Linked DNA regions of Homo sapiens: regions 1 and 3 are each linked to region 2. Evidence: fine-mapped expression QTL. A gene starts in region 2. Each other region holds a variant in brackets. All regions are shown on one strand. Distances are from middle to middle.

Region 1 (8,186 bases), 570 kb after region 2:
GGAAGGAGCCAGGACTGCCAGGCCACTCGGAGGATCCAGCTGTCTGATGTTCCAATGCTCCTGTTATGATTCCTCCACTTCTTATGAAACTCATTATTGCTTCCTGTATTTCTGTGCCTAGGAAAGAAGGTGTGATGGGGTGATAATCAGCAAGGACTTATTGAGGGCCCACTGTGTGCTTTAGGACTTTCAAAGGAATTATAAAGCAGCTGGGGAGACAACCCTGGCCTAGACATAATTGCACAGCCCAGCATCGAGAACCAGCAAAGCCTCAGTCCTGTGTAGCAAGGACAGAGTAGGACTGGGTGAGCTGTGACTCCGTTCCTGAGACCAACTGTCTCGAACATAGTTACACCAGCGGCCTGCTGGTTCATCACCCAGAATGTTCTGGATACTCCTTTGGATCTTGCCTTCATATTCTTTTGTTTTCTACAGTATTAATTAAGAGGCTAAAAGATAATGCACTTATGCATTTCTTTTTTTTTTTGAGACGGAGTCTCACTCTATCACCCAGGCTGGAGTGCAGTGGCTCACTGCAATCTTTACCTACCAGGTTCAAGCAATTCTCGTGCCTCAGCCCTCCCAGTAGCTGGGACTGCAGGTGCGCACCACCACGCCCGGCTAATTTTTGTATTTTTAGTAGAGACATTTTACCATGTTGGCCAGGCTGGTCTTGAACTCCTGACCTCAGGTGATCCACCCACCTTGGCCTCCCAAAGTGCTCGGGATTACAGGCATGAGCCATTGCGCCTGGCCTAACTTAAGCATTTCTTTTACACATAAAAATATAAAGAAAAATTACATAATCTGTACAACCCAGAGCATCAGTGTATTTTTCTCCACTTGTATTTGTACGTAACATTTTTTCTGGCTGAGCACGTTGGCTCACGCCTGTAATCTCAGCACTCTTTAGTATTCTCTACTAAAAATACAAAAATAAACTGGGCGTGGTGGCACACGTCTGTAATCCCAGCTACTTGGGAGGCTGAGGCACGAGAATCGCTTGAACCTGGGAGGAAGAGATTGCAGTGAGCTGAGGTCGCACCATTGCACTCCAGCCTGGGCAACACAGCAAGACTCCATCTCAAAAAACCCAAAAAACTAAAAAACCATTTTTAGTTTTTATCCAAATATTTGTGCGCATAGTTGGAAAAGTCATGGCCGGGCACTATGGCTTATGCCACCTGTAACCCCAGCTACTCCGGAGGCTTGAATCAGGGAGGCGGAGGTTGCAGTGAGCCAAGATGGCACCATTGAACTCCCTCTGCCTGGGCAACAGAGTGAGACTCAGTCTAAAAAAAAAAAAAAAGTCAAATCGTTCTTAAAGTTTGTTATGAAAACTCCTCCCACCATCTCCCCTCCCCAGGGACAGCCAGTTTCACCTCTCCCAGCATATTATATTGATATTTATCTCCAGGTCTCTAAATAATGTGCTTATCTCGCCCCTCCTTGCTTTTTCATTTTAGGCATTATATGAAGACTTCGCTCTTTCTTCCCATCCCCACCCCCTCGCAATGACTTAGCTCTTCCTTCCCCTCCTTGCCCCCCTTATCCCCTCTTTGTCCCAGAGTACTTAATTATACTGAATTAGTTACAGTATTATTTAGCATTTACAGTATTACGAGCATGGAAATATCACAGGCAAGACACTACACTGTTTTCTAGCACGACTTTTTGTTTTCCTAGAGCCAGTACTTGGTTTTTCATTTATTTAGTTTGTTGTGGTTGTGTATGTGTGTGTTTTTTTGTTTTTGAGATGGAGTCTCTGTCTCCCAGGATTGTGGTTGTGTGTGTGTTTTTTTGTTTTTGAGACCAAGTCTCACTCTCCCAGGGTTTTGTGTGTGTGTTTGTTTCTGAGATGGAGTCTCACTCTGTCTCCCAGGGTTCTTTCTCTCTCTCTCTCTCTCTCTCTCTCTCTGTGTGTGTGTGTTTTTGAGATGGAGTCTCACTCTGTCTCCCAGGGTTGTGGTTGTGTGTGTGTGTGTATGTTTTTGTTTTTGAGATGGGGTCTCACTCTGTCTTCCAGGGTTTTGTGAGTGTGTGTGTGTGTGTGTGTGTGTGTGTGTGTTTGAGATGGAGTCTCACTCTGTCTCCCAGGCTGGAGTGCATGGCTCGATCTCGGCTCACTGCAACCTCTGCTTCCCGCATTCAAGCGATTCTCCTGCCTCACCCTCCTGAGTATCTGGGACTACAGGCACCTACCACCATGCCTGGCCCTGTTGTGTCCTTACCACTAACCACCCTCGCTGGCGCGGTGGCTCACGCCCGTAATCCCAGCAGTTGGGAGGCCTAGATAGGTGGAGCACTGGAGACCAGGAGTTGGATATCAGCCTAGGTAACATCGTGAGACCCTATCTCCACCAACAATACAAAAACTAGCTGGGTGTGGTGGTGCGCACGCCTGTAGTCCCAGCTACTCCGGAGGCTGAGGCGAGAGAATCGCTTGAACCTGGGAGGTTGCAGTGAGCCGAGACAGCGCCACTGCATTCCAGCCTGGGTGACGGAGCAAGGCTCCGTCTCAAAAACAAAACAAAACAAAACAAAACAAAACAAAACAAAATAAACAAAACCACTCACCCTCTCTGGCAATTGGGATCTCTCTCTCTGCTGCTGCAGCAGGTGTGGTAAGATTTCAATTCCCGCGGGGTCTGGGCCTCCCAGGTTCAAGCGATTCTCCTGTCTCAGCCTCCCGAGTTGCTGGGATTACAGGCGCGCCTGGCTAATTTTTGTGCTTTTTTTTTTTTTTTTTTTTTTTTTTTGAGACGGAGTCTTGCTCTGTTGCCCAGGCTTGAGTGCAGTCGCGTGATCTCGGCTCACAGCAAGCTCCGCCTCCCAGGTTCATGCCATTCCCCTGCCTCAGCCTCCCGAGTAGCTGGGACTACAGGAGCCTGCCACCACACCTGGCTAATTTTTTTGTATTTTTAGTAGAGACGGGGTTTCACCGTGTTAGCCAGGATGGTCTCGATCTCCTGACCTCGTGATCCGCCCGCCTCGGCCTCCAAAAGTGCTAGGATTACAGGCGTGAGCCACTGCACCCGGCCATTTTTGTGTTTTTAGTAGAGACGGGGTTTCACTATGTTGGCCAGGCTGGTCTTGAACTCCTGACCTCAAGTGATCCACCCACCTCGGCCTCCCAAAGTGCTGGGATTACAGGTGTGAGCCACCACCTCCAGCCTGATATTGAGTTTTAAATTTCTGCTTTCTTATTTTTAATAACTGGAGACCTATTTTCTGAGTGTTTGCTCTTTGTGGCAACTGTTCTTATTTTATGGGTACAGTATCTTCCCTCTCTGAGGATGGGAGTGATTTTTGTTAATTTTTTTTCTTCCTGCACGATGTTTCCTCCAAGTTACTTTTTCCTGTTAGTGGCCTCTCCTTTGTGATTGAGGCTTTCCTTGGCTGTTGGTTGTTGGTTCTTATTAAGAAACTCTGACTGGGGGTTCTCAGCATGTGAGCG[GC/C]CGGCCATGACCTCATTATAGGGTAGGCTGGCTGGCTGTTACACAAACCTTCAGCTGGTTCTTAGTCTATCCCTTCTCTTCACCCAACATGGTACCTCACTGAGCCTGAGCCTTTTGGGCATTCCACTGGGTAAACTGGATTGGCTCTTAACTGTCCCCACTACTGGCTAGGAATTCAGTTTTTTCTTTGTCTTAAGCCATTTGCCATTTTGACCATATACTTTCCACCTTCCAAAAATGTTTCCTGTTTCTTTCCTTTCTCCTTGATTGTGTGGGGTTTGCCTTTTGCTTCACCTTCTTTGCTGTCAAGCATGGGTTCAGGGGGTAACCACTGTCATCTTTACCTAGGTCCTCACTTTTTTTATTAAGTAGTTTTTATTCATTGACTTTGTTGAGGTATAATCAAAGTACAGTAAGCTGCATGTACTTAAAATGCACAACCTAATAAATTTTACTTAAATTCATTAAATAAATGCACAACCTGAGAAATTTTCACATGTGATATACCTGTGATGTCATCATCACGATGAAGATAATGAACATTTCATCACCCACAAAAGTTTCCTTATACCCCTTGCAAGTCTTCCCCTGCCCTGTCTGAGCATACCCACCATAGAATAGTCTGCATTTTATAGAGTTTTATATAAATGGAATCTTAGAGTATGTGCTGTAGTGTGGTTTATGGCTTCTTGAATTCAGCATAATGATTCTATGATCGTTCATGTTGTGTTTATCAGTAGTTCACCCCTCTTCATGGCTGAGTATTATTCCACTGAATGGATGTACCACAATTTGTTCACTCATGTACCTGTTGAGGAACATTTGAGTTGTTACCAGTTTGGGAGGATTATAGATAGAGCTGCTGTAAACATTTGTGTACAAGTCTTTGTGTAAATATATATTTTAGGTTTTTTTTTTAAGGTAAATACTGAGGAATGAAATGCCTGAGTCATGGTAAAAGTATGTTCAAATATTTATTTATTTATTTTTTATTTTTTGAGACGAAGTCTCGCTCTGTTGCCTAGGCTGTAGTACAGTGGCGTGATCTCGGCTCACTGCAACCTCCGCCTCCTGGGTTCAAGTGATTCTCCTGCCTCAACCTCCCAAGTAGCTGGGATTACAGGCGTGCACCAACACACCCCGCTAATTTGTGATTTTTTTTTTAGTAGAGATGGGGTTTCACCATCTTGGCCAGGCTGGTCTTGAACTCCTGACCTCAGGTGATCTACCCGCCTCGGCCTCCCAAAGTGCTGGGATTACAGGCACAAGCCACTGTGCCCGGCCTCAAATATTTTAAAGTAACTGCCAAACTGTTTTCCAAAGTGGTTGCCTCATTTTATATTCCTATGAGCAGTGTATAAGAGTTTCAGTTGCCCCATCTCCTTGCCAAAATGTTTTGTGATCTGTCTTCTCATTATGGCTTTAATTTGCATCTCCCCAGTGATTAATGATGTTTAGCATCTTTTTATGTGGTTATTGGTGGTCATAAAACTTCTTCCTGTGAAGTGTCATTTGAAATCTTTTGCTCATTTTGTATTGGGTTGTTTGTCTTGACACGAGTATTTCTATTTTTCTCCTTTTTTAAAAATTAAGATATATACAATTCAGTGGTTTTTAAGCACATTTACGGTTATAAAACCATCACCATGACCTAATTCCAAAACATTTTCATTACCCCTCAGAAAAATTCCAGATTCATTAGCAACCACTCCCTTTACCCCTCTCTCCCCAGCCCCTGGCAGCCACTAATCTACTGTCTGTCTCTATGAATTTGCCTATTTGGGACATTTCATATGAAAGAGTCATATAATATGTGGTCTCTTGTGACTGGATTCTTTCATTTTTAAGATTTTCAGGGTTCATCCATATTATAGCATGTATCTACTGATACATGCTTCATTCCCTTTTATGGCTGAATAATTTTTTTTTTTTTTTGAGACAGAGTCTCGCTGTGTCATCCAGGCTGGAGTACAGCGGCACAGTCTTGGCTCACTGCAACCTCTGCCTCCTGGGTTCAAGTGATTCTTATGCCTCAGCCTCCCGAGTAGCTGGGATTACAGGCATGCACCACCACGCCTGGCTAATTTTTGTATTTTTAGTAGCTGTGAGGTTTCACCATGTTCCCCAGGCTGGTCTTGAACTCCTGGCCTCAAGTTATCTGCCTGCTTCAGCCTCCCAAATATTGGTATTATAGGCGTGAGCCACTGGGCTGAATAATATTCTGCTGTGTTGATATACCACATTTTGTCCATTCATTCACTGCTAGGCATTTGGGTTGTTTTTCACTTTTTGGCTATTATGAATAATACCATTGATGAACACTCATGTGCACACTTCTGTATAGACATATGTTTATAATTCTCTTGGGTATAAGTAGGAGTGGGATTGCTGGGTCATATGGTTATTACTGGTGGAAGGTATCAGAGTTACTGGCAAATCTGTATGGGTCTGCAGCAACCTCAATTCTTGCCTCCTCAGAAGAAATAATTCGACTGAGGGCAGAAAAAGAGATCAAGGCAAATTTTCAGAGCAGGAATGGAAGTTTATTTTAGAAGCCTTTAAAACAGGAAAGAAAGGAAAGCAAGCTTGGAAGAGGCCCAAGCCGGGAACTTGAAGAACAAGTGTGATGTTTAACCTTGATCCTAGGACTTTATAGGCTGGCCCACTTATGGCGTCTTGTGCCCCTTTCCCATGATTCTTCTCTCAGGTGGGCTTCCCGCATGCGCAGTGCCCTCCTTACCCTTGGGAAGTGAGCAGGGGCAGTGTGTTTAGGAAGTTGTGTGCATGCCCATCTGAGGCTTTCTTCCCTTTTCTGGTGGGGTGCCCCCAGGAGGTCCATCATTTTGTCTCTTAATGCATATGCCTGGGAAGTTACTTCTCCCTGGCACCTGCATTTAATTAATACGTTAGTGCAACAGGTGTGGACCATCAGGAAATGGGCTCTCCCTGGCACCAGCTGCCAATTTATCACTGTTAGAGAGGCAATGCAATAACTGCCGAACCACAACCCAACATTCCTAGTGGGTTGAGGGAGAGTCCTCTCTGCCCGGCTCACGTCTGTCTAACTACCTGTAACATGGTTAATGGATGTTTAACTTTTTGAGGAATCACCAAACTATTTTCCAAAGCAGCTGCACCATTTTACGTTCACACCAGCAGTTTGTGAGGGTTTCACCTTCTTCACATCCTTAACAACATTTGTTGTTCTTTATTCTAGCCATCCCCATGTGTGTGAAATGTTATCTCATTGTGGTTTTGAATTGCATTTCTCTAATGACTAATGATGTTGAGCATCTTTTCATGTGCTTATTGGCCATTTGCATATCTTCTTTGAGGGAATGGTTATTCAAAACCGTCACTCAGTTAAAAATCAGATTGTCATTTTATTGTTGAGTTGTGTATTTATATATTTTAGATGTGTAGATGTGTATCATTTGTCTGATATATGTGTTGGTAATATTTTCTTCCCTGTCTGTGGCTTGCCTTTTTTTGTTGTTGTTGTTTTGTTTTGTTTTGTTTTTGAGATGGAGTCTCGATCCGTTGCCCAGGCTGGAGTGCAGTGGCATGATCTCGGCTCACCACAACCTCTGCCTCCCAGGTTCAAGAGATTGTCCTGCCTCAGCCTCCTGAGTAGCTGGGACTACAGGCGTGCACCACCATGACTGGCTAATTTTTGTATTTTTAGTAGAGATGGGGTTTCACTGTGTTGGCCAGTCTGGTCTTCTGACCTCATGATCTGCCGCCTTGGCCTCCCAAAGTGTTGGGATTATAGGTGTGAGTCACTGCATCCAGCAGGCCTTTTGTTTTTTTAAGGTGTCTTTCAAAGAGTAAAAGGTTTTAATTTTGACAAAGTTCAGCTTATCAATTGTTTATATTTTGTGTGTGTGATTTTTTTTCTTCTTTTTTTTTTTTTGAGATGGAGTCTCGCTCTGTTGCCAGGCTGGAGTGCAGTAGTGCAATCTCAGCTCACTGCAACCTCCACCTCCTGGGTTCAAATGATTCTCGTGCCTCAGCTTCCTGAGTAGCTGGGATTACAGGCACATGCCACTACACCCAGCTAATTTTTATATTTTTAGTAGAGACAGGGTTTCACCATGTTGGCCAGGATGGTCTCGATCTCCTGACTTCATGATCTGCCCACCTCGGCCTCCCAAAGTGCTGGGATTACAGGTGTAAGCCACCGTACCCTGCCTGTGCTTTTTTGTGTTCTAAGAAAACTTTGTCCAGTTCAAGATATAAATATTTTCTCCTATGTTTTTCTTCTATACATTGCATAATTTTAGATTTTACATTTAGGTCTTTGATCTGTTCCAGTTAGTTAATTTTTATATGTGGTGTGAGTTAAGGGTCTTAGATGACATTTAGTATGTCTCCAACATTATTTCTTATTTCGTACGAGGCAGAATGGGAGTCTCACTCCCCTATTATTTTCTCCCTCGCCTTATTCCATATACATTATAGGAAATGTGTTTTTGTTTTTTTGTTTTTTAAGAGGAAAGAGACAGAAAGATTTGCTAATATGGGGGTAGCCAGTATACTCCGTTTTTACTCAATAGTGTCATGTTGCTTTCCCTACATTATTTTTTTTTTATTTTTTATTTTTTAGATAGAGTCTTGTTCCATCACCCAGGCTGGAGTTCAGTGGCACAATCTCGTCTCACTGCAACCTCCACCTCCCAGGCTCAAACAATTCTCCTGCCTCAGCCTCCTAAATAATGGGATTAAAGG
Region 2 (8,186 bases):
AGGCACCATGCCTGGCTAATTTTTGTATTTTTAGTAGAGACAGGGTTTCACCATGTTGGCCAGGCTGGTCTCGAACTCCTGACCTCAAATGATTCCGCCCTCCACCCCCACCTCGGCCTCCCAAAGTGCTGGGATTGCAGGTGTGAGCCACCGAGCCCCGCCTGTCCTTCCTTTCCTTTTTTTTTTCTTTTGAGATGGAGTCTCACTCTGTTGCTCAGGCTCGAGTGCAGTGGCATGATCTTGGCTCACTGCAACCTCTTCCTCCTGGGTTCAAGCGATTCTCCTGCCTCAACCTCCCGAGTGGCTGGGACTACAGGTGTGCACTACCACGCTTGGCTAATTTTTGTATTTCTAGTTGAGATGGGGTTTCACTATATTGGCCAGGCTGGTCTCGAACTCCTGACCTCATGATCCACCCGCCTCAGCCTCCCAAAGTACTGGGATTACAGGTATGAGCCACCGGGCCTGGCTCTTCCTTTTCTTTGATACATTCCTCATTAATAAGCATTCTTCCTATTGCAACAGTCTGAACAAAATGATTTGATTTATAGTCCAGTGCATCTCACCTTTCACACCCTTCTCCTTTATTCCCCTTTTCCTCATCACACAGAATTTTACAATGAGATTTCTGCTTGTGTCAATCTATCAGAAATTCAGCTGACAGGGTGCATGACACTGCGAATGAATTTAATGCCTTTGAACTGAACACACATGGTCCTGACTTAATGATGGTTTGACTTAGGATTTTTAGACTTTAGGATGGGTTTAGTTTTTCTGTAGGTAACCCCATTGTAAGTTGAGGACCATCTGTACTTAAAAATTATACGCTGTATTTTATGTATTTTTTTTCTTTTTTTTTTTTGAGACAGAGTTTCACTCTTGTTGCCTAGGCTGGAGTGCAGTGGCGCGATCTTGGCTCACCGCAACCTCCACTTCCCAGGTTCAAGCGATTCTCCTGCCTCAGCCTCCCAACTAGCTGGGATTACAGGCATGCGCCACCACACCCGGCTAATTTTGTATTTTTAGTAGAGACGGGGTTTCTTCATGTTGGTCAGGCTGGTCTCGAACTCCCGACCTCAGATGAGCCACCCACCTCGGCCTCCCAAAGTGCTGGGATTACAGGTGTGAGCCACCGCGCCCGGCCTTTATGTGCATTTTACTACAATTAAAAATTCATCTTGCAGAGAAATGCAATGGAAATAATTTATTCAAAACAATTAGAACCCCTACTATGTGCTGGGTGATAGGTTGGGGTTGGGGAAATGGGTGGGGCCTGAGTTAGGAAATGAGTAAGACCTGCTTCCTGTGGTCCTGGAGCTCCCAGCCTTGCTGCGGAGACAAACCCATAATCTGTTAATTGAGCTCCATAATTCCAGGTGACACACATTACAGTACACATGCGTAGCGCCTGATTTCAGTCAGGATGCAAAGGGCTTTGAATGCTACACTAAGGACTTTGGATTTTGGTAATTGGGAGTTATGAATGGTTTTAAAGCCAGTGTATGACACGAACAGATTCATTGCAATTCCTAAAGTCTTAGCACCAGACATTTGACATTGTAGGGTGTCAAAGACTGATGGCAGTGACAGGCTGGGCACCATGGCTCACACCTGTAATCTCAGCACTTTGAGAGATGAGGTGGGAGGATCGCTTAAGGCCAGAAGTTCAAAACCAGCCTGGGCAACATAGAGACCCCCATCTTTAGAAAAAATTTTAAAAATTAGCTGAGGCTCACCCAGCAGTTTGAGACTGTAGTGAGCTATGATCACAGTACTGCACCCCAGCCTGATGGATTGAGACCCCATTTCTTCTTTTTTTTGTTTTTTTGAGACGGATCTGCTGCTCAGGCTGGAGTATGGTGGTGGGATCTTCTTGACTCACTGCAACCTCTACCTCCTGGGTTCAAGTGATTCTCCTGCCTCAGCCTTCCAAGTATCTGGGATTACAGGCACCTGCCACCACGCCCATTTAATTTTTGTATATATATGTATATATATATTTTTCGAGACGAAGTCTCACTGTGTTGCCCAGGCTGGAGTGCTGTGGTGCGGTCTCGGCTCACTGCAACCTCCGCCTTCTGGGTTCAAGTGATTCTCCTGCCTCAGCCTCCTGAGTAGCTGGGACTACAGGCGTGTGCCACCACGGCTGGCTAATTTTTTGTATTTTTAGTAGAGATGGGGTTTCACCATGTTGGCCAGGATGGTCTTGAACTCCTGACCTCAGGTGATCCGCCTGCCTCCCAAAGTGCTGGGATTACAGGCCTGAGCCACCGTGCCCAGCCAAGACCCCATCTCTTTAAAAAAAATAGCTGTGACAGCTTTAATTTTAAAAAGTTGATCCCCTGTAAAGTAGGCTCATAATTATGTTTATCTTATTAAATATATTCATGCTCAGGAAAGCAAGAGAGTGTTAACTTTGGTTAAGTCTATTGGGAAGACATAAACACAGATCTGTCAATTGCTCTATATGAGATGTGCATGGAACACTTTGAGAGCTCAGACAGGAGAATCTACCCTGCCTGAGAGGTTTGAGAAGGACCTCCAGAAGGAAGTGGACTGCAGAAAAAAAAAAGAGGGAAGGGAAGCTGGAGCATAAAGATGGAGGAAAAGAGTCATGGGCAATAAGGCCAGGGCCAGATGGCAGGGGGCTTTGTGTGCCAAATTGAGGGGCTTGAATCTCCTCCCCACAGGTGATGGTGAGCCATCAAAGGCCCGGTTAATAAGAATGATGATGATGAAATAGCGCTTATGGCTTGGTGCGGTGGCTTACACCTCTAATCCCAGCACTTTGGGAGGCTGAGGAGAGAGGATCACTGAAGTCTAGAAGTATGAGACAAATCTGGGCAACTTAGTGAGACCTCCCCCACAACCCCATAGCTACAAAAAATAAAAATTAGCAAGGTGAGGTGGCACACACCTGTAGTCCCAGCTACTTGAGAGGCTGAAGTGGGAAGATCCCTTGAGTCCAGGAGGTTGAGGCTGTGGTCATGCCACTGCACTCCAGCCTGGGTGACAGAGAGAGACCCTGTCTCAAAAACAAAAACAAAAACAAAAACAAAAAAAAAAAGAAAAGAAAAAAGAAAGAAATAGTGCTTACTACACGCAAGGCACTGTTCTAAGAGGTTTACCAATATTGACTCATTTAACCCTGACACTTACCATGGTTAGATAGTTTGGATCACTTTAGTGGCTACGTGGAGACCAGTCTGGACACATGTTGTGGTGCCGGATAAAGACGAAGGGATGTGCCTGTAGTCCCAGTAACTCAGGAGGCTAAGGTGGCAGGATCACTTCAGCCAGGGAGGGAGAGGCTGGAGCTGAGATTGTGCCACTGCACTCCAGCCTGGGCAACAGAGCAAGACCTTGTCTCTCTTTTTTTTTTTTTTTTTGAGATGGAGTTTTGCTCTATGTGGCCCAGGCTGGAGTGCAATGGCTTGGTCTCGGCTCACTGCAACCTCTGCCTCCCAGGTTCAAGCGATTCTCCTGCCTCAGCCTCCCAGTAGCTGGGATTACAGGCACGTGCCACCACGCCTGGCTAATTTTTTTTTTTATTTTTAATAGAGACGGGGTTTCTCCACCTTGGTCAGGCTGGTCTCGAACTCCCAACCTCAGGTGATCCGCCTGCCTCGGCCTCCCAAAGTGCTGGGATTACAGGCGTGAGCCACCGCGCCTGGCCAAGACCTCGTCTCAAACCAAAAAGAAAAAAAAGAGGAAGGGAGGAAAGGAGGTGATGGCTTTTAGAATTAATTAATTTGTGTGCTTTCAGTTCTTTTATATCTGTAGGTTGCTTGATGGCCCAGACTATCACGGCAAAGGAGTCATTTGCATTTGAAGAGAATGTGTCTTCCGCAGTTGTTAGGTGGAGTTTCTATAAATATCATCAGGTCAAGTTAGTTGGTAGTGCTGTTCAAGTCTTTTATAAATTGATAGTTTTCCAGCTATTTTACGGATTTGTCTATTTCTCCTTTCACTGCTATATCTTCCAAATTGATTCAGAGAGCTGCAGTCAGGAGCGTACTATTGCAGAGAGGATAGAATGTTTGGGACCAGAAGAAACGTTTTATCTCTTTAAATTTACTCTCGTACGCAGAAAACAAAATACAAATAAACTACGTATCCCAGCAAGCCTAGTGGAACTCAGGGCAAATGCAAATAAGGGGGGGGGCTGGGCATTCGGCTACGCCCCTTTTCTGGGTTGGCAAGGCAACTGATACAGAAGCCAGCCAATCGGTGATATAGTCACCTGCAGGGGCGGGGGCTTGACGAAAGCCAATAGGACGCAGGGCAGATGGCTCTTCGGGCCAATGGGTTGGGCGACGGGGCGGGCTTTTGATGAAGGGTCGTTGGTGGGAAAGATGGCGGCGACTCTGGGACCCCTTGGGTCGTGGCAGCAGTGGCGGCGATGTTTGTCGGCTCGGGATGGGTCCAGGATGTTACTCCTTCTTCTTTTGTTGGGGTCTGGGCAGGGGCCACAGCAAGTCGGGGCGGGTCAAACGTTCGAGTACTTGAAACGGGAGCACTCGCTGTCGAAGCCCTACCAGGGTGAGGCGCCCAGGGTGAGGTGGTCGTGCAGTGGGGCGGGCTTCGGGACTTGATTTCAGGGGTAGAGGCGGGGGCGGCGAAGGGCTTCGTGGCCCGGAGGAAACTGCTGGCGGTGGTGGGGCCCACGGAGACTCCCTCCGCGTTTGGGAGCCACAGGTCTGAAAGGCAGGAGTTAGGTGTGCCTGCCAAGCTCTGGAAGTTTCCAGTAGGTAAAGGCAGGGCTGTCGGGTGCCACTAGTACTAGGCCTGGAGTTAGACAGGAGGAGTTTGGGAAGGGGAGAGAATTGAGAATGGTGAGGAGTGATTGAGGGCTACTAGCAATGAGCCAGTCTCCAGATGGACCTGTGGATGTGCTAGAAATAAAGCAGGAGGAAGAACTGGGGTAGAACTTGAACGAAATGAGAAGATGATAAATTTATGTTGCTGGGTAGAACCACCTTCTCTTCTCCAGCCTAGGGGCCCTGTTGGTGAAAGAGGTTAGGGTTCACAGAACTCTAAGCACAGCTTATCAGCCAGAAAATTAATGCAGTTAGCCACAAAACGATGACAAACCAGTGCAGATGGCTTAACTAACACAAGTCTTTCCCCACTAAGGCGTAGGTAGTGGGACAGAAAACAATTCAAAGTGCAAGAGTATACTCTACTACTAAGGGTAATCATTTATTCACTTACATGCCTGGAGTGCCTCTGTGCTGTCTCTTTGCTAATGCTTATGGGTTTGCAGACACAAAGTTTTCATTCTTAAAGAAGTTTATAGGTGAGGGTACAGGGAGTAGCTTCACACTTTAAGGATTGTTTAAAGAAAGAATGTGACGGCTGGGGCGGTGGCTCACGCCTGTAATCTCCGCACTTTGGGAGGCCGAGGTGGGCGGATCACGAGGTCAGGAGATTGAGACCATCCTAGCTAACACGGTGAAACCCCATCTCTGCTGAAAATACAAAAAAATTAGCCAGGTGTGGTGGCGGGCGCCTGTAGTCCCAGCTACTCAGGAGGCTGAGGCAGGAGAATGGCGTGAACCCGGGAGGCAGAGCTTACAGTGAGCCGAGGTCATGCCACTGCACTTCAGCCTGGGCAACAGAGCGAGACTCCATCTCAAAGAAAAAAAAAAAAGGAAGAATGTGACTAAGCCCCGGAGGCCTGAGGGTCAAACTCTTTTTATTTATATTTATATATTTTTAGAGACAAGGTCTTGTTCCGTTGCCTAGGCTGGAGTGCAGTGGCACAATCATGGCTCATGCAGTTTCAATCTCCTGGGCTCAAGCGATGCTCCCAACTCAGCCTCCTGAGTAGCTAGGACTATGGACAAGGACTACCACACCTGGCTAATTTTTTTTTTGGTAAAGACAGGGTCTTTCTATGTTGCCCAGGCTGGTCTCAAATTGCTGACCTCAAGATGCCCTCCCTCCACATCATCTCAAAGTGTGGGGATTACATGGGTGAGCCACTGCACCTGGCCTGTCAAACTCTTTTTGATATAACTCAGGAAAATTTTTTTCTTTTACGATGCTGAAGTTTACTCACATATAAAACGGGAAGAATGGATGTGAGCTATGGTTACTGTAACATGCATAAAGTGAGAGTTCTGATGTGCTTTGGGGTCCTTACCTGATAAAGGCCTTGTGAAAGCTGTAGAGATGGTAAGATTCATGACTGAGAGAAGATAGGAGATTGAGTGACATTAAAGGGGGAAAAAGATGATGGCTCAGCTTTCAGAGGCTCTGTGGTGGCTGCTTTCTGAATGGATTGGTGTTGAAAAGTATGAACTGATCTACTTCCTTCCTGTAGGTGTGGGCACAGGCAGTTCCTCACTGTGGAATCTGATGGGCAATGCCATGGTGATGACCCAGTATATCCGCCTTACCCCAGATATGCAAAGTAAACAGGGTGCCTTGTGGAACCGGGTGGTAAGAATCTTTCTCCCTCCTGTGTTGGTGACCCAGAAAGGCCTAAAAAGTTCAGCAGTGGCATACTGATTTAATTTTACTGTCTATCCCCCTGGTATTCTATCTTCTGTGGATATCAAGGATCTTTATTTTTGAGATTATTCTGACCTTGATAATAAATAAATCAGGTATTTAGGAAAATGCTCTCTATTTAATTATAGCAAATAATTCATTTTTTTTTCCTGAAATGTCGTTAATTCCTGATTGGCCCAATAGTACTACTTCTTAGGGTTTAATAATAACTTAACTCCTGCTTAACCACTTTGTAAGAAGATTATAAGAAGACCAGAGTGCAGTGGCACAATCATAGCTCACTGCAGCCTCAAACTCCTGGGCTTAAGGGCTCCTCCTGCCTCAGCCTCCTGAGTAGCTGAGACTACAGGCATGTGCCACTGCACCTGGCTAATTTTTAAAACGTTTTTTGTAGAGATGGGGTCTTGCTATGTTGCCCAGGCTGGTCTCAAACTCTTGGTCTCAAACAATCCTCCTGCCTTGGCCTCCCAAAGGTCAGGGATTATAGGTGTGAGCCACCGGTCCTGGTTGAGAGTACTCTTAAATTGATCCCAAACCTTATCCCAGCATCCCCATCTTGTTATTTCAATTTGAAGAGTCTGATATAAAATTTTATTTTCATGTGAAAGCCACTCTGAGCTGTTGGTCATTTTATTTGTCCTTCTCTGGACCTTTTCTAGCTGCATTGTCTTCCTTGAGGTATGGCGACAAGAAGTGAATGCAGTATTCCTGGTGTGGCTGCACTGTGATTTTGTACAAGTGTAAGATGATGCTTTCTTTTCTGTTTCCAGGGCTTTCTAAATCTTTTACGACCAGTTTACTTTTGGGCATGACTCTGGCATCCTTTGATACTTTCTCTGGAATTCTCTTAAACTAAGAACTTACTTTTTTACGTGGCTTTTCTCATTAGTTGTAGATAAGCGAATCTCAGAAAAGAGAACGATTTCTTTTCCCTGTTCAGGAGGGCAAGAGAAATTTCTACATTAGCTATCTGCACAAACTGGCCCCTTAACCTAGATCATAGTGCCGAGCTCATTTTTGGACAGAGTACAGAGCATTGTGTTTTCGTAGCAGAGATAAAGGACAGTTGAAAGACTGGGATTCTCGGTCCAGCTCTGTCACAGTCCTCCTGTGAGCCCTAGGCAGATTATTTAACTTCTTAGTTCTGTTTCTCTATCTGATAAATGAGCTTCAGAATACCTGTTTTACTTGCCCACTGGGGTTGTCGTGAGAATAAAATAGGACAATAGACATGAAAAGACTGTGGCAAGTTAAAATGGTTATAGAAATATGTGTTATGTTATTACACTTCTACAGGTTTGTTGATGGGGCTCTTGTGGGTTACCGGATGATTATGTTCAAGGCTTGATACTCTGCTGCTGTCTTGCTGGCTGTCTGTCTCTACATAACTTGTAGCAGCAGTTCTAGTATAGCCTCTAGTTCTTCCCTTTTTCGACTTCTGATACCTGTATTCGCTGTTATCTGGCTATCACCATGACTATGGGCTTGTTTCTGAGTTATTTGAATAGGATGCATTTGTTTCAGCAGTGGTTCTCAAATTTGGCTATCCATTGGAATCAATGCCTGGGTCTCATCCCCAGAGATTCTGATCTAATTGGAATAGGGTGCAGCTTGGCCATTGGGATTTTTTAAAACTCCGTAGGTGAATCCAGTGTGTGGCAGAATTT
Region 3 (8,186 bases), 22 kb after region 2:
GAGACTCCGTCTCAAAAAAAAAAGAAAGAAAGTACACAATAAATGTAATGTGCTTGAATCATCCCGAAACCACCCCCCCTCCAACTCCCCGGTTCATGGAAAAATTGTCTTCCAGGAAACCAGTCCCTGGTGCCAAAAAGGTTGAGGACTACTGGATTAGAGGATAAACAAAATGTGATATATTGTTATAATGGAAATATCAGCAATGAAAATAAGTATCACTGGGTGTGGTGGCTCGTGCCTATAATCCCAACACTTTGGGAGGCCAAGGTGGAAGGATTGCTTGAGTCTAGGAGTTTTAGATCAGCTTGGGCAACATAGGGAGACCCCATCTTTACAAAAAACAAAAAAAATTAGCTGGTCCCAGCTACTTTGCAGGCTGAGGCAGGAGGATTGCTTGAGTCCAGGAGGTCAAGGCTGTAGTGAGCTATGATTGCCACTGCACTGTAGCCTGGGCGATGGAGCAAGACTGTCTCAAAAAAAAAACAAAGTAGGAGTAATTGCCAGGCACAGTGGCTTACACTTGTAATTCTAGCACTTTAGGAGACCAAGGTGAGTGGATCACTTGAGCCCAGGACCTCGAGGTTGCAATGAGCCTTGATCACACCACTGCACTCCAGCCTGGGTGACATAGCAAGACCCTGTCTCAAAAAAAAAAAAAAAAAAAAAAAAGACTGAAAGAAATTAAGTATCGATATGTGCTCCAACATGGATGACCCATGAAAACACTATGCTAAGTGGAAGAAGCCAGTCACAAAAGACCCACACATTGTATGATCCCATGCATATGAAATGTCCAGAATAGGCAAATCTGTAGAGACAGAAAGTAGATTAGTGGTTGTCTAGGGCTGGGGTAATGTGGGGTGGAGATGAGGAGAGTGACTACTAGTGGGCATGAGATTTTTTTTTGGGGTGATGAAAATGTTTTAAAATTGGTTGTGGTAATCATAATCTTAACTCTGAATATACTAAATGCCATTGAATTATATACTTTAAGTGAATTGTGTGGACTGTGAATTATATCTCAGTGTTGTAGTTATTTATTTTATTTATTTTTTTTGAGACTGAGTCTCACCCTGTCGCCCAGGTTGGAGTGCAGTGGCGTGATCTTGGCTCACTGCAACGTCCATCTCCCAGGTTCAAGTGATTCTCCTGCCTCAGCATTCCGAGTAGCTGGGATTACAGGTGCCTGCCACCACGCCTGGCTAATTTTTGTATTTTTAGTAGAGACGAGGTTTCACCATGTTGCCCAGGCTGGTCTCGAACTCCTGACCTTGTGATTTGCCCGCCTCAGCCTCCCAAAGCACTGGGATTACAGGCGTGAGTCACCGCGCCTGGCTGTATTGTAGTTATTTTTTAATGTTGATTAAAAGATCACCAGTGGGCAGGCACAGTAGCTCGTGCCTATAATCCCAGCACTTTGGGAAGCCAAGGCAGGAAGATAGCTTGAGTCCAGGAGTTTGAAACCAGCCTAGGCAACATAGCAAGTCCTCATCTCTACAAAAAATCAAAAAAAAAAAAAAGGTAAAGATAACCTGATTATCTTGCACTATCAAGTCATCAGCTGATGATCATCACTTTCTCACACAAACCTACCCAGATGTTGGTGAAAAGTTGCAGGGAAGTCAGTAGCAATCTTGGAGCTACAATGTGCTTCCGTTGAAATCAGAGCGTAATGAATGAGAAGAGGCCTTCCTGGAATGAGAGCACAGAGTGTAACCGTTGCGGTCTTGGCCTTCATTCTTTTCTGTGAGATGTTTGGGCCTCACCCCTGGGGAGGCAGAAATAGCTAGAGAGTGGGGAGAAGAGCTTGGGAGTTGTTTTTGAGGTATTCCCCATACTTTGAGATACTCCTCATACTTTTTTTTGATGTGATGATTGTTTTTTCCTCCTTTGAACTGGAAGAAAATTTAACAATACCATGCCATCCAGTTAAAAAAACATTTCCTCAAGTCTTTTTTTTTTCTTTTGAGACTGAGTCTTGCATTCTATCGCCCAGGATGGAGTGCAGTGGCACAGTGATAGCTCACTGCAGCCTCGAACTCCTAGGCTTAAGCAGTCTTCCTGCCTCAGCCTTCTGAATAACTGGGACTACAGGTGGCCATCATGCCAGGTTAATTTTTACTTTTTTTGGCCAGGTGCAGTGGCCAATGCCTATAATCCCAGCACTTGAGGTCAGGAGTTCGAGACCAGCCTGGCCAACATGGTGAAACCCTGTCTCTAATAAGAATACAACAATTAGCTGGGATATGGCGCATGCCTATAATCCCAGCTTCTTGGGAGGCTGAGGCAGAAGAATTGTTTGAACCTGGGAGGCGGAGGTTGCAGTGAGCCGAGATTACGCCACTGCACTCCAGCATGGGCAACAGAGTGAGACTCTGTGTCAAAAAAAGAAAAAAAATTTTTTTTTTTTTGTAGAGATACGGTCTTGCTATGTTTTCAAGGCTGGTCTTGAACTCTTGGACTCAAGTGACCTCCTCCCTTGGCCTCCCGAAGTGCTAGGATTACAGGCATGAGCCACCACACTCAGTCCCCTTAAGTCTTTGTCTTGATGAAGACACTGATCCCAAAGTGGTCTCTTTACTGTTGGCAGAGAGAATTTTAACATGTTTCTTTTCTGAGACAGTGAAAGAGGGAGAAAGGAAGAAAGCAAGGGCCAGTGCTCCAGAGGATGCTTATTCCTGGGTTAGTTCTTTTCTTTGGGCTTTGACCCTTTCGAGACTCTGATTAAAGTGTTGGACCCAAGAAAGAGGCATGTACACAGAAGAGTTGACATGATTTTAGGAGATCTGAAGATCTCCTGTTCTATAGAATTGATGGCTCTTCTCATTAACAAGAAGTATTGACATACTATCAGAATGATGGTCAGCAGTGAAATAAAGACATACATAATGGGCTCTATTCTGAAACTTGGTACTTGTAATCTGGGTGGGTAGGTTATAAAGGTCAGTGCTTGGGGCACACCTCAAATTTAGTCTCCTGATTTTGGAGTACTCTTTATTGAAGTCCTCAAATTACTTGATTTGAGGACTAAGATAAATGAGATTGAGATCATTCCGTGAGTTTCTTAAGAGAGCGTGATGATATTCAATTATATGAAGGTTTCCAGACCTGGAAGTGCCACTTTTCTGTGTCCTCCAGTTGAGAAGCTGTGAGTCCTGGGGACAGAGTCCCTAGCATAGCTTTGTGGGAGTCTGGGGGCTTACAGAGCAAGGGCCTTCTCAGGCTGCCTAGTAATGTGTAACGAATCTCACTGATCTTCTTTTCACTTTAAATAGGATGGGTATTGTCTCCTCTTTGTCTGGATTTCTGCATAAAGGGCTAGATGAAGATTATTGTAGGACCAGCAGCTTATACAGCTTTGAAAAAGTGACAGGTCTACGTGTGTAAGTGACAGTGTGTTCCGCTAGTGATCCCAGGGAGGATGAAATGGAGGTGTGGTGGGAGATGCTTCACATTTAGTAGCATCTAGTAGAAGGCATTTGTTTTGTTAATTATTTTTATATACATTACAGGAGAATTAGAAAATGCTGAAAAAACAAAAGCGTACAAACATCTTTAAAAACAAAGACATTGTATCATGTTGTAAATACTGTTTTTAAAACCTTTTTAAATGTTTAAAAAATTGCAGATATATAGAAAAATTGAGAAAAGCAGAAAAATTGTATGGTAAATACTAGATTCAGATTAATCTTTATTTGATAATAATTTTGTGCTTATGATTAAGTTATAAGAATACAACCGGCCACGCACAGTGGCTCACGCCTGTAATCCCAGCACTTTGGGAAGCCAAGGCGGGTGGATCACCTGAGGTCAGGAGTTTGAGACTAGCCTGGCCAACATGGTGAAACCCTGTCTGTACTAAAAATACAAAAATTAGCCGGGCTTGGTGGCAGGTGCCTGTAATCCCAGCTAGTTGGGAGGCTGAGGCAGGAGAATCGCTTGAACCCGGGAGGTGGAGGTTGCAGTGAGCCGAGATCGCGCCATTGCACTCCAGCCTGGAGGACAAGAGTGAGACTTCATCTCAAAAGAAAAAAAAGTTGGTCCTTTAGGGGGAAAAAATATAACAAGAGAATTTTGGAATGTTCTTCACCCAGATTTCCGAAAATGTTAATGTTTTACTACATTTGCTTTGTCCCTATTTTTTTTTTTTTTTTTAGAGACAGAGTTTTGCTCTTGTTGCCCAGACTGGCGTATAGTGGCACGATCTTGGCCCACTGTGGCCTCTGCCTCCTGGGTTCAAGCGATTCTCCTGCCTCAGCCTCCTGAGTAGCTGGGATTACAGGCATATGACACCATGCCCGTCTAATTTTGTATTTTTAATAGGGACGGGGTTTCTCCGTGTTGGTCAGGCTGGTCTCGAACTCCCGACCTCAGGTGATCCACCTGCCTCGGCCTCACAAAGTGCTGGGGTTACAGGTGTGAGCTACTGCGCCTGGCCGTCCTTTTTTTTTTTTTTTTTTTTCCGACACAGGGTTTGGTTTTGTCACCCAGGGTGGAGTGCAGTGGCACAATCACAGCTTAGTGTAGCCTCAACTTCTCAGGCTCAATAGAGCCTCCCATCTCAGCCTCCCAAGTAGCTGGGACTACAGGTGCATGCCACCAAGCCCAGCTATCTTTTTGTAGAGATGGGGTTTTGCCATGTTGCCCAGGTTGGTCTCAAACTCCTAGGGTCAAGCAATCCTCCCACCTTCATTTCCCAAAGTGCTGGGATTATAGGTGTGAGCC[A/G]CCACACCTGGCCATCCTTTTCTTTAACCTCTTTCTTTGTGTGTGTGTGTCTGTGTGTATGTGTCTTGCGTGTATGTTTGTGCTTGTGTGTCTTTTTTTCTGAACTAAGAGTAAATTGCTCTCATGATGTCTCCTTAATCCTAAATACTTGTGTGTGTGTGTGTGTTTAAAAAAAAAAGTTATTTTATGTAGCCACAGCACAGTGATCAAAATCAGGAAGTTAACATTTGTAACAATACCATTATCTAATCTGCAGGCCTTATTCATATTTCACCTATTGTCCCAATATGTCCTTTATAATGAAAGAAAGTCCCAGATCCTGTGTTGTATTCAGTTGTTACTCTCCTTTAATCTGGAACTATTCTCAGCGTTCTCTTTGTGCTTCAGAGTACATACTGTTTAGACCTGATTTTAAAAAAATAATACATATGAAACATTTTTCCATATTGAGAGATATTGAAAGCAGTGTATCCCAGTGATTGAGTCAGGGCTCTGGAGCCAGAATACTTGGTTTCAAATCCTGATTTCACTACTTAATGCCTGTGTTATCCTGGACAAGTTTTTTACCTGTGAAATGAGGAGTACTGATACTACCTCATAGGATTGTGAGAATTAAATGCAGAAGGGCTCATTACTGAGTTCAGTGCCTGGCACAGACTAAGTGCTCAATAAACACCAGCTATTATTCACACCATTCAGTGGATTCCTAAGGGACATTTTGCAAACATCTTAGTTCTGTTCTCTCTTCCTCTCCCCTCCTTCACTTCTTCACATCTGGGTTCCCAAAAGCAAATGGTCAGCTTACTAGACAATGGTATGGTTTGAGATGGAAACACTGCTCTAAAAGAGTGGCTCCTAGATGCCAGTGTATGAACTCCAGTTGTGTGGTAACAGAGTTTTCACTGGTGCAAGAATCATAATAATGAAGTTCTTTTTCTTAAGTGCTAAATGTATTCAGTTGTTTCATTATGAAATTACATTGTTCTCTCTCATCTTTTGGTGTTAAAGTGTCCCTTTGTAAAATGATGTTTATTATAGATGATTGTTCTGTCATTATTGTATTTTAATATTTTTAGTAGGCAATAAAAAGAAGCCAAATCTAATACTCTCCAAAATATTTTTGGAAATATTAATGGTTGATCACAGCCAGTGGTCTGGGAATTCGTGCTTTAGAAGATGTATGTTTGGCTTTGTGTTTATATATATATGAGTACCTGTGAACGATATTTGTATCTAGAAATACACTAGTCACTGATTGAATGTTTATTGACTCCCTCCTGAACACCAAGACATTGTACTAAATGCTTCGCATATCTCATTTCATCTTCATAATGAACCCTGTGAGCTTTGTATTGTTCTGTTTACAGTGAGGAAATAGAATCTCAAAGAGGTGATGTAATCCACCGAAGGGTTACACAGCTATAAGTGACATAACTGCAGTTAGAACTCAGGTCTCCCTAATTACAGAGGCCATTTGGAATTTTAGCCTAGAATCCATAAATCCACAAGCTAATGGGTGTCTTTTCCATCGAAATATGCTGAAGATACAGTTATCCCGTAGAGGTCTTCAAAAAACACTTTTTTAAAAGTAGTCTTGTAGTACAAAAAGTTGAAAACATTTCTCCACCCTTTAAACAACAGTCCTTTGGATGATAAAACAGGTGAGAGTTTCTCCTTTCTGGTGACTCTTAAATTAGGAATAAAACTACCACCTTGCCTGAACCAGTGTGATTCTTCAATCTTTGGTTCTAACTTACAGAGTGCTTTCTAGGGGAAAAACAAAATTGCTCCTGTGTGAAATTAGTGGTTATCCAAGAAATACTTCCAGGAACTCTTGACTAGGCGTAGAAAATAAGATGGCATTTAGTGACTTACACTAATGTGAGGTTAAAAGTTGAAGGCCAACTCGTGTTGCCGAAGTAGACAGATTCTCTGTAGTTGCAAAGCTGTGAGGCTCCCTGTCTGGTGCAGCGTTTCTTCAATTTGGCTGCACATCACAGCCTTCTGTGGTGCTTTTTAAAAATACATAATCCTGGCTGGGTGCGGTGGCTCACGCCTGTAATCCCAGCACTTTGGGAGGCCAAGACGGGCAGATCACGAGATCAGGAGTTCGAGACCAGCCTGACCAACATGGTGAAACCCCATCTCTACTAAAAATACAAAAATTAGCTGGGCATGGTGGCGAGCGCCTGTAATCCCACCTACTCATAAGGCTGAGGCAGGAGAATTGCTTGAACCCAGGAGGTGGAGGTTGCAGTGAGCCAAGATTTCGCCACTGCACTCCAGCCTGGGTGACAGAGTGAGACTCCATCTCAAAAAAACAAACAAAAAACAATCCTGCACCCCACTCTAGCCATACGAATGAGACTCTTTGACTGAGGGACCCATGTATACGTGCAGTTAACAAGCTCCTTCAGGTGCTCCCAAGGTCCAGCATGCCTCTGGCTGTTACCTGGAACTGGGTCCACACCAGCCTTGGGAAGAGTAAGGCACCCTTAGGCTAAGGATTGCTGTCTCTTTATTATTTGTTTATTTTCTAAGCAAGCTAACATAGGAGATTGCTATCTCTTTAAAGTTGCAACTTAAACTTCTAATCAGGGTTACTAGAGGTGATGAGTGAAGGAAGCCTTGGGCTCATCAGAGCTCCACAGGGCATTTTTAATCCCTTTTTCTTAATTGTCACTGAAATTATGAGCATACTCTCAGATGCCAGTTTCTGTAAACTGCTTGATAACATGCTCACCATTTCCTTGTTCTAAATGGTAGTTGTTGAAGATTAACTTCATGCCAGTTTAATCATCCACGGATTGATGTCATGCCTTTCTGTGTCCTGTATGAATTCTGCCAGTGGTGTTAAGAGGAGGACGGCAGGGGATCTGCACTGCAGCCTCGGACTCCTGGCTGTGGCCCATGGAGCCCAGTGCCGTGGGTGCTGCCTTGCCTCATGGCAGCCTCTTCTCACAAGCTGTGATTCTGACTGATCTGTTTCCAGTTCCTTGAATGTGCCACCCTCATGCTTCTTGTGCCCTCAGATCTTTTGGTGGACTCCCTCTAATTACTTGAGTCTCAGCTCAGATATTGCCTCCTCAGGGAGAGGTTCCCTTGCCCATCCCTTGTATTACCTATTTTATTTTCCTTATAGCATTTTTCACTATCTGAAATAATTTTATTTGCTTCTTTGTTGTTTGTTTCTTCCACTCTGATCTTAATTCCATTCCTGTCTGTCTTGTTTCTCTTTGGACCCTCAGCATCTGGAACAGTACCTGGCTTGTAGTAGGTGTTCACCGTATTAAAGGAGTGAAGGGTTTGAGTTCTGTACCCTCGCCTACCTGTCCCACAGGGCAGAGCTGAGCTGAGCTTGTGTAGGTACCTCTTGTCGCTAATGGCTTAGAACTGCAGCTGTTTGCTGGAGCAGAGCTTAATACCCTCACGCCTGATGATTTTCTAAATCTGTCATT

Evidence for each region.
Region 1: its variant is fine-mapped to the expression of LMAN2L in whole blood (TOPMed, PIP 0.96).
Region 3: its variant is fine-mapped to the expression of LMAN2L in whole blood (INTERVAL, PIP 0.92).

The regions. Positions count from the first base shown.
Region 1 is chr2:96,166,105-96,174,290 of GRCh38, reverse strand. No RefSeq gene overlaps it. Among named protein-coding and RNA genes, the nearest start is that of DUSP2, 25 kb to the right of the region's middle. The variant GC/C (reference allele first, on the strand shown) is at 3,458.
Region 2 is chr2:96,736,210-96,744,395 of GRCh38, reverse strand. LMAN2L (lectin, mannose binding 2 like) reads left to right here and starts at 4,332. Exons shown (of 8, transcript NM_030805.4): 1 at 4,332-4,542; 2 at 6,329-6,447. The coding sequence starts at 4,356. RefSeq lists enhancers at 4,079-5,016, 5,017-5,956.
Region 3 is chr2:96,713,813-96,721,998 of GRCh38, reverse strand. All of the region lies in intron 4 of LMAN2L (lectin, mannose binding 2 like), which reads left to right. Among named protein-coding and RNA genes, the nearest start is that of LMAN2L, 22 kb to the left of the region's middle. The variant A/G (reference allele first, on the strand shown) is at 4,729.